Regions from separate parts of the Homo sapiens genome. Here regions 1 and 3 are each linked to region 2. Evidence: fine-mapped expression QTL. A gene starts in region 2. Each other region holds a variant in brackets. All regions are shown on one strand. Distances are between the middles of the regions. Region 1 overlaps TRMT11 (tRNA methyltransferase 11). Region 2 holds the start of TRMT11 (tRNA methyltransferase 11). Region 3 has its middle 68 kb from the start of TRMT11.

Region 1 (2,767 bases), 24 kb before region 2:
ATAGAAGGGCTGAACTTTGCCACTTTTTACAGATTTACTGTCAAATACTATAGAAAAGGCAGATCTATTCTTAGATAGGCTGCCTAAAAAACTCACGACCTCATGAGGCATGGGAAAATAAATTTTCATGCACATTCCTGAAGCTCAGTAGGTTCACAGGCCCAGTGGTTCCACAGAACCCCAAATTTCTTGTAATGCTAGAAAGGAGATGCCAGTGAAAACAGGCACTACAAAAACACAAATGCTTACACATAGAGAAATGTGTGATATCTGAAACTCTGTTCAAAATTTGACACCATAATTGCAAATGACATGTGAGCTCCAGTTGGTATAATAACCAATTATAGTCAATACAAAAACAAATACTAAATATATGCCTCAAAAAAATAAGCTGAAGGGAAAAACGGGTGACAAGTTAATATAAAAGGATATAACAGGGGATGGCAAGCCAATATATTTGTTTAAAAAAACAAAACAGTAAGCCCTTAACAAGGTAGTTAAGTACCTTCATAACTTTCTCCTTACAAGATGAAGAAGCTGGGGGTAGATGGGAGAAATACTGACAAGTTGGCATTTTGTGCATGTGTTGGTAAATTTTGTACTTTAAATGTAAATGATTTTACAAAACGAATCCTACTCCTACTTTTGTATAAAAATAAACTTACGATCAGTAATGATTGCATCAAAATATGTGCCCTTCCTCCAGGAAGGTTTAGATGCATCTGAAACCAGGACATCAAGGTAATACTTCTCTAAACCATATTGACGAAGATTGGCCCTAATGTTTTCATCTGGTCCTCTCCACTTCTGGTTTTTCCTAGTAGCCTTTCCTGAAGGGAAAGAAAAAGGAAGAGAGAAAGTATTAAACAGAGTATTCTTATTTTCTGTCATTTAGGAAAAGTAATGTTTTAACTCACTGAAACCTACATTTATTCAAAATTTGCTTTCATTTAAAATCTTAATTTTATGTATACAAGTAAATAGTTATTTTAATTTCAACATAACAGTAAAATGTACTGATGTCTAACTTATCTTGTTCTGTCAACTTCCAAGTAAAACTGCCTTAAAACACTCATTCGATATTTTCAAGTACGAAGATTTTTGTAGTAAGATAGAGTTGAAGAGAATATGGTTCCTTTCTTCCAGCAGTAAACAGTCCTGTGTAGAGATAGTATGAATCAGATAAATGAAACAGAAATGAAGAGAGCGAACTTGGGAAATGCCGCAGTTGTGACCATGA[G/A]GAAGGGAGGCAAAATGGAGACATTGCTAATGAAAGTTAAAGTGGGAGTGGAAGGAAGGCTAAAGAAGCTCGTAAGTTCCTTGTTTAGGAGACATGATAGTTTAGGATGATGACACCAGTGATTAATATCAGAGAAACCAGGAAGAAAAACAAGCTTAAGAAAAAAGATTAGATTCATTTAAGATATATCAATCTTGATGTACCTTGAGGTACCTGCAGAACTTTCAGAAAAAGATACGCAGTGGGGACATTCAGCAGGTAGTTGAAGGCCAGAATATACAGACTTTGGAGTTATCAGCATATAATCTTATACTGACTCCATAAGGCTGAATAACATTCTTTTTGTTCACTTAGGAGGCAGTTACATGTTTGCTCTATAATTATTCTTATAAAATCAAAAGAAGAACGACATGACTCTGAAAAACATGCAGTGTGACGGAGAAGTGCTCAAAGATAGGTAGACGCCTGGAAAAAAACAATATATAAACATAAATCAAAGAAAATTGCAGGGCATCAAGTAGACTGAGAAGAAACAAAAAAGTAAAAGTACCACCTGCCAAGACCACTGTCAAGGAAACCAAGAGCAGCTGTATGAAGGTCAACACTGTCAAATGCTATAAATCTGTGGCCTTTGTTAGCGTTTTCAACAGAATGATAGGCACAGAAGCTGGAAAATAATGGCCAGAAGAGAGTGAAAGATGAAGAAGAGGAGACAAGAAGTTATACTAGTTTTTCAAGAAGCATTTTGGCAAATGGAAAAGGAAAACAAAGTGGTAGCTAGAGAACCTCTACAGATTTGCCAAAAAAAAAAGTTTTGTACTTTTAAAACAGGAGAAACTTGAGAATATTTTAGGATAAAGTAAGAGTTCAGAACCACAGGAAACAGAGGGTATACCTAACAGTATCTTGGATAAGCTCTAAGGGAACTACCTCAATCAGAATTCTACCCCAGTAGACTGAAGGTTACAACATAAGTTTCCAAACATAACTTTAATAAATAAAAATTCAAGTAAATTATATAAGACAATTTCCTTAAAAGAAATATACTGCTTCTACTAAAAGCAAATTGGAATAATTCTTAGTACTTTTTAAAACAGATTTCAGATAAAGAATATCTTTTTCTTGCTAGCCCATTTATATACACCTAATAAATTATAACTCATTTTCCTAATAAATGTTACTAAATTCTTTACAGTCAAGGTAGGGAAAAAGACAGGTCACCAGTACAAGATATCAAATTACTTCCACAAAAGAAAATAAAGTATAATAAATGCTCACCAATACAATAACTTATACTGGGTGAGGAAAAGGAAAAGAGTATTATAAGGGCTGATCCCAGTTATTATAATGAATACCAACATAAACACAAATAATCTCAAAATCATCAATAAAATGACATTTTCAATACCATTAAGCTATAAGGAAATACTTTTTCAGTTTGATTCAATTCCATCCAATCACACATCATTATTGAAGCTTCTAGAGTTTAAAATATTTTCCATAATTACCTGAAAAGTAAAGCAGATG
Region 2 (2,767 bases):
ATGGCCTAAATATTTTCCCAGTCTATCCCATCCTCTTACTCCTTGCCCTAGGTCAGACCTTCTTAATCTATTAACAAGACTATTCCCACAGACTCCTAGTCTCTGGCTCAAGTCTTATTCTTTTCAAATCCATCCTCCATAGTGTTGTCAAACTGATTTAATTTTGTGGTCACTTTTTTACTTAAGGCTTTTCAATAAATCCCCCTTCCAAGCTCCAGGGTACTCAAGGTTTTCATTTTCTGGCCTCGATCTACTTCCCTTGCTCTCTTCTTACCACTCTGCCACATAACTAGTGATCCAGTAATAATGAACACCTTGTAATTCTAATTTACTGATTTATCTCCTTGGCCCTCTAACTCCTATTCATCCTTTATTTCAAGTGTCATCTCCTCTGGAAGCCCTCTTAAAGGCCAACATCCCCAACCCCTCAGGTAGATTAGATTTCCCTTCCACGTGCTCTCATATTTCCATGTGCATCTATCACTGCACTTACCGACGCTCTTTTGTCATTCTACGCCTATGTGTCTGCTCAGCCCTTACTCTAAACAGTAAGCTCCTAGAGGGCAGAGATTGCTTACATCATCGTTACATGCCCAGCGTACCGATCTTCGACTACATGCATTCTGAAAACGTTTCTTGAATAAATAAAACACTCTTCTCAACTTCTCCATCATCTAATCCCCACCACCATCCCCTCCACTGAGCTTGATCCGCAGATTCCAATACTTCAAACACCAGCCTGAGCATTTGTTAGCTGTCTCTATTCTCCGCTAGACGAAGAGCTCCGGGAGTGAGATGACCGGTCATATTCACCTGCCTAACTCCGGTACTTGATACACGGGCAAAAGAATGAAAAGTTTAAGCAGGCCGAGGGGTTTGGTCTCGGACTTCTCTCACACACACCCTCCGCCAAGCTCACCCCGCCCGAGGACTGGGGACGCGTGACCCGCGCAGACCAGCGAAGACCCCCGAATCCCAGCTTCCTCGGGCTATGCAGATCACCTCCACCCACTCCACTCCACTCCAGCGTCCTCTTCCGTCGGAAGTTCCGGAGGGCGCTACGGACTCACCGGCAGGCGGAACTCCAGATGCTCCTGCGCCATGAGGAGCAGATACCTGTTAAGGGTACACGACAGCGCCATTGCAGCTGCCCACCGTGCGCCTGCGCGGCCCGCGCTAGGTCCCTCTTTCTCCCTCCCAAAGCCCAGTCTCCACAGAGACAGAGCCTGAAGGGCCGGAAGCGGAAGCTCTGCGAGGCAGGCGCTATCCCGACGTTTCTCGCGCTCCGAGTCCGAAACTCCGGCCGCTGTGGGAGGGGCTTCCTCACCTGTGAATGCCTGGTGGTTAGGGGTCTCCCAGCGCTGGTAGCTGGTGAGCGGGGACGCGTGGCTTTCAGGAGCAGCCTGTGATAATAAGACAGTATATTTCCAAGTTATCGTTCCACTTGGAGTGTGCTTCCAGCTTTCTCTACAGCCCTTCAAAACCTGTTCTTCAAAATTGGACTGAAATTTCACCATTTCCTTGGAAATTTCACCATTTCCTTGTAGGTTTGTCTAACCAGCACAGCTTTGGGAACTGATTTAGTTGGGCCAGTCATTTAACAGTATATTTTTCGTATTTATGTAACAACTTTTCGAGAGCACATGCCTTATAACCCAATTATAATAAACTCTTGAGGTCTGATATAATCTTTTATGGTTCACTCTATTCTTAACAAAAACCAAAAGAATATCTTCCTCAAAGTAGGCAATAATTATTAGGTTGTGTTATTTGTTAGACTCAGGACTAAATCCACAGCCAGCCATAAATTAAAACTTGGAGAAAGCTCACACTGGCACAGATTTCATAGCAGATAGTTTATGAAATATATTTTAATTGCATATTCTATGTATATATGTGACTTTTTTTTTTTAAGACAATCTTGCTCTGTCACCCAGGTGAGTGCAGTGGCGCAATCATAGCTCACTGTAACCTTGAACTCCTGGTCTCAGGGGATACTCCTACCCTAGTCTCCCAAAGTGCTAGAATTACGGGCTCAAGCCCTCCCTCTGGGCTATTTCTGCTTTTGAGAGTACCGAGCCCTTTGCCCTATTAAAAATTATTTATTTTGCATTTCTCTGTGGTATTGTACAAGGTGCAAAAGAGTATGTATCTGGCATATCCCCAGCGGCATGTGCCAGAAACGTAGTTGATGCGCAGTGGTAGTGATTAAGAACATAGGCTGTGGTGTCAATATTAGATTCAAACCTCACTTCCACCATTTACCATGTATATGCTCTTAACCTCTCCGAGCTTGAGTTTTCTTTTAAAAATGGAAAAACACACTGCCTCCTGCAAAGGATTGTTACAAGGATTAAGTGGAATAATGTTCATAAAGTGTTGAATATAACATCTGGCATATTGAATGGGGCCAATAAGTGGCACTTGACATTTTTCTTAAGAAAATCACATGAGAATTTTTGTTAGCAAGAGATCTGTTTTTGTTAGGAATATGTCTCAAGTTCACTTGTGCTAAGTGACTCTGAGAAGCATAGCTGTCTCTTGACCCCAAAACTTCAGAAAAGGGGGTAAAAGTACTTTGAGACAAGAAAAGTTGTTTACTATTTGAGAAGAGAGGCCAAGGTTGGGACAGAAAACCAATGAGATGTTGGGGAAATGATGTGCAGTACTTGATATGCCCCATCCCCAGAACTTGTCAAATCTTCAGCAAAATTAATATGGAATTTTGATGGGGCAACTTTATAGAGAATATCAAAGAATTGCTGAT
Region 3 (2,767 bases), 68 kb before region 2:
ATTCATCTGATGTTCATAGTGGTTGCTGGCTGGCATATGCCAGGCATGCAGTAAATAGTGAAGGAGAAGCAGGCAGGGAGTGTTAGAGAAAACCAGGCGGGCCACAAGCAAGGGCTAGAGGATTCCATGCTGTCCTTCCTCTCATCCTCATTAGTAATGGGTTTTTAAAAGGTCGTAAAGGCCAGGCACAGTGGCTCATGCCTGTAATCATAGCACTTTGGGAGGCCGAGGCAAGGGGATCAGTTCAGCCCAAGAGTTCAAGACCAGCCTGGACAACATGGAGAAACCCTGTCTCTACAAAACATATAAAACTTAGATGAGTGAAGTGCCATGTGCCTGTAGTCCCAGCTTCTCAGGAGGTTGAGGCGGGAGGATTGCTTAAACCCAGGAAGTTGTGGCTGCAGTGAGCTAAGACTGCACCACTACACTACAACCTGGGCTATAGAGCCAGACCCTGTCTCAAAAAACAACAAAAATGTTCGTCAGCATATGGTGACTCAAAAAGCCTGGTTGCTCTTGGTAAGAATCTTCAAGGAAAGATGCGAAAGAGACGTGTTGGGAGTTCTGAGCTGTTTTCTTTCAGGGAGCACCCTGTGTCTCAGAAGACAGCAGAGTGGGCTCCAAGGTGAAGTTCTGAAATAGGCAACAGTGCTTGAATCACAAACTATTTTTTATTTATGACAGATTCCTTGAGGTTGATCAGTAAAATATCCTTTATGTATATCACCAGATTTTAAAATCATGACACTTCAACAGCTCATTTGTCTTGGAGCGGAGAAGCAGCTCCCTGAAACAGTGTTTGTATTTTGCCTTGGAGATAAGGACAAACATGAGCTGGCAACCCACAATCTTTATTTTCATCAGCTTGCTCTTCAGCAGGCCTACACCGTCAGCACTGTGTGAAGAGCGAAATCAATAAAAATCATCTCCCTCGGTGCAGGAGGCCAACATGTGACTGTTTCTTGGCTCTGGAGCAAGTATCTGTCAGTCAGGGTCAGGAAGGTTTCT[A/G]CTGTACTTATCTGGGCAATCTCTTACCACAGTGTAACTGGGCACCTAGGGGGGCTCTATAGATGGGGAAATGGAAGCTTTGTGGTGTCAATGCCTTAATTCAAGCAGCCTCAGCTATGCAATTCACCCAACTTAGAAGACAGCATTAACTGAGACCTAGAACCAAGGCAGAAACAGACCCTGGAGCAAAGGCAAAGCCACAGACTCCCTCTTTACAGGCACCCTTTGTCAAGGAACTCAAGCACTTCAGCCAAGGACACCATTTTGAAAGAAATTAAAACTTCCCAAAGAGCCTTGGCATTACCAAAGGGGAGAGGAGGTCACAGGGAGTGGGCTTCTCCCAGAATTAAGTGCAGATTCTGCAGCAGGGCGTATGAGTCCTTTAGGATCTGGCTCTCATGACCTGTCCAGCTTCATTTCTCCTCTTTGGCTAATGCATTTAGCTCCTGGCACACCAACTAGTTGAACTGTTACCCAAATATGCTTTTCCAGTGCTATTCTCTCTGCCTGGAATCCCCCTTCCCGCCCTCACCCCCTGACATGATCACGCAACTTCCACTTCTTTAGGGGTTAACTTAGATGTCATCTCTCAGGCTTCTTCCTTGATCCAGTCCTCTCTCACGTGTTTTTAAATGTAGGTTTTATTATTATTCAGGTATGGTGAGACCAACAGATCACAAGACAATTTTAATTGAAAAGACAGTTTGTTCCTCGAAGCTCTCGAGAGGACACACCACGCCATGCAGGGCCATGTGGGGAAGGACCAGGGTCGTTCAGGAGGCAGAGGGGAGGGGAAAATGTGGACAAGAGCCTTTATTGTGGTTTCCAGAGGAAGGAACAGGTAAGGCAGGATAAGCAGGCATAGGATTAGCTAGTTTGAATAATCTCAGCAGGCTCTGGGGTATAGGGGTTGTCCCTAAGTTACCTGGTACCTGGCCCAAAAGTGATTAGGTCTGAGAAATAGTGACCCAAAGCATAAAAGCTGTATAAAAGAGGAAATAGAGTGAGTGGACTCTGGACTGTTTAGTTTCTATAAAAGACACACTTGAAGGAAGGTGAAACCTTTATCTCTAGGAATTGGCTGGTTCTGGTCTCTCCAGGGTCAGCAAAGCCCCAGATGTCAAAACATCAGAAACACATGGTTAATACACTACCACTGTTAGAAGTGGCTAGGTGCTCCTCTTAGACTCACACTGGGCTTGCCCTGTGGAAAGACGGATCACACTATTTTAACTGACTACTTACCTCTTTGTTTCATACCACCGCCATCCTCCAGACCATGAGCTCATTGAGGATAGGACTATGTCTAATTCCTTGTTGAGAGGCAAAAAAAAAAGGACACAGAGATGAACTTGGTACACTTCAAGGTCTAGCCTTAGGTTCCAATGCATCAGGTGACATCCCCCGCCATAGGAGCAAGTCTTCTGGGCCATTTACCCCTAGCAGAAATGGGTCAGGTCTTCCCCAGAAAGCTGATTCATCACACAGCACCAGTCCTGCCCTTCTTGTTTCCTTAGGAACCCACTTAGGATCATGAAAGAGCTTCTCTTTGGGTTCAGAAAGACAGACTGGAGGCAAAAACATGGTTCTCCTGTTTTCAGGTTCTTGATCTGTTTCTCCAAAACTAAGAGAGAAAACAAGCTAACAAATGCAAGATCAAAAACTAGATCTTTGTTCATTTATTTTGGTCCAAAAGATAAGACTGTAGACTTAAATGTCATCAGACCTCATGACTTTCCTGGCAGCATTTCTGTGTGAA

What was found. PIP is the estimated chance that this variant, and not a neighbour inherited with it, causes the effect.
Region 1: its variant is the best candidate, but not a certain one, in a credible set for the expression of TRMT11 in cerebellar hemisphere (GTEx, PIP 0.67).
Region 3: its variant is the best candidate, but not a certain one, in a credible set for the expression of TRMT11 in cerebral cortex (GTEx, PIP 0.77).

Annotation. Positions count from the first base shown.
Region 1 is chr6:126,009,316-126,012,082 of GRCh38, reverse strand. TRMT11 (tRNA methyltransferase 11) reads right to left here. Exons shown (of 13, transcript NM_001031712.3): 9 at 666-830. Among named protein-coding and RNA genes, the nearest start is that of TRMT11, 24 kb to the right of the region's middle. The variant G/A (reference allele first, on the strand shown) is at 1,241.
Region 2 is chr6:125,984,926-125,987,692 of GRCh38, reverse strand. It overlaps TRMT11 (tRNA methyltransferase 11), which reads right to left and starts at 1,153. Exons shown (of 13, transcript NM_001031712.3): 1 at 1,071-1,153. The coding sequence starts at 1,142. RefSeq lists enhancers at 270-1,099, 633-1,122, 1,100-1,930.
Region 3 is chr6:126,052,677-126,055,443 of GRCh38, reverse strand. It overlaps a transcript of TRMT11 not described here. Among named protein-coding and RNA genes, the nearest start is that of TRMT11, 68 kb to the right of the region's middle. The variant A/G (reference allele first, on the strand shown) is at 1,009.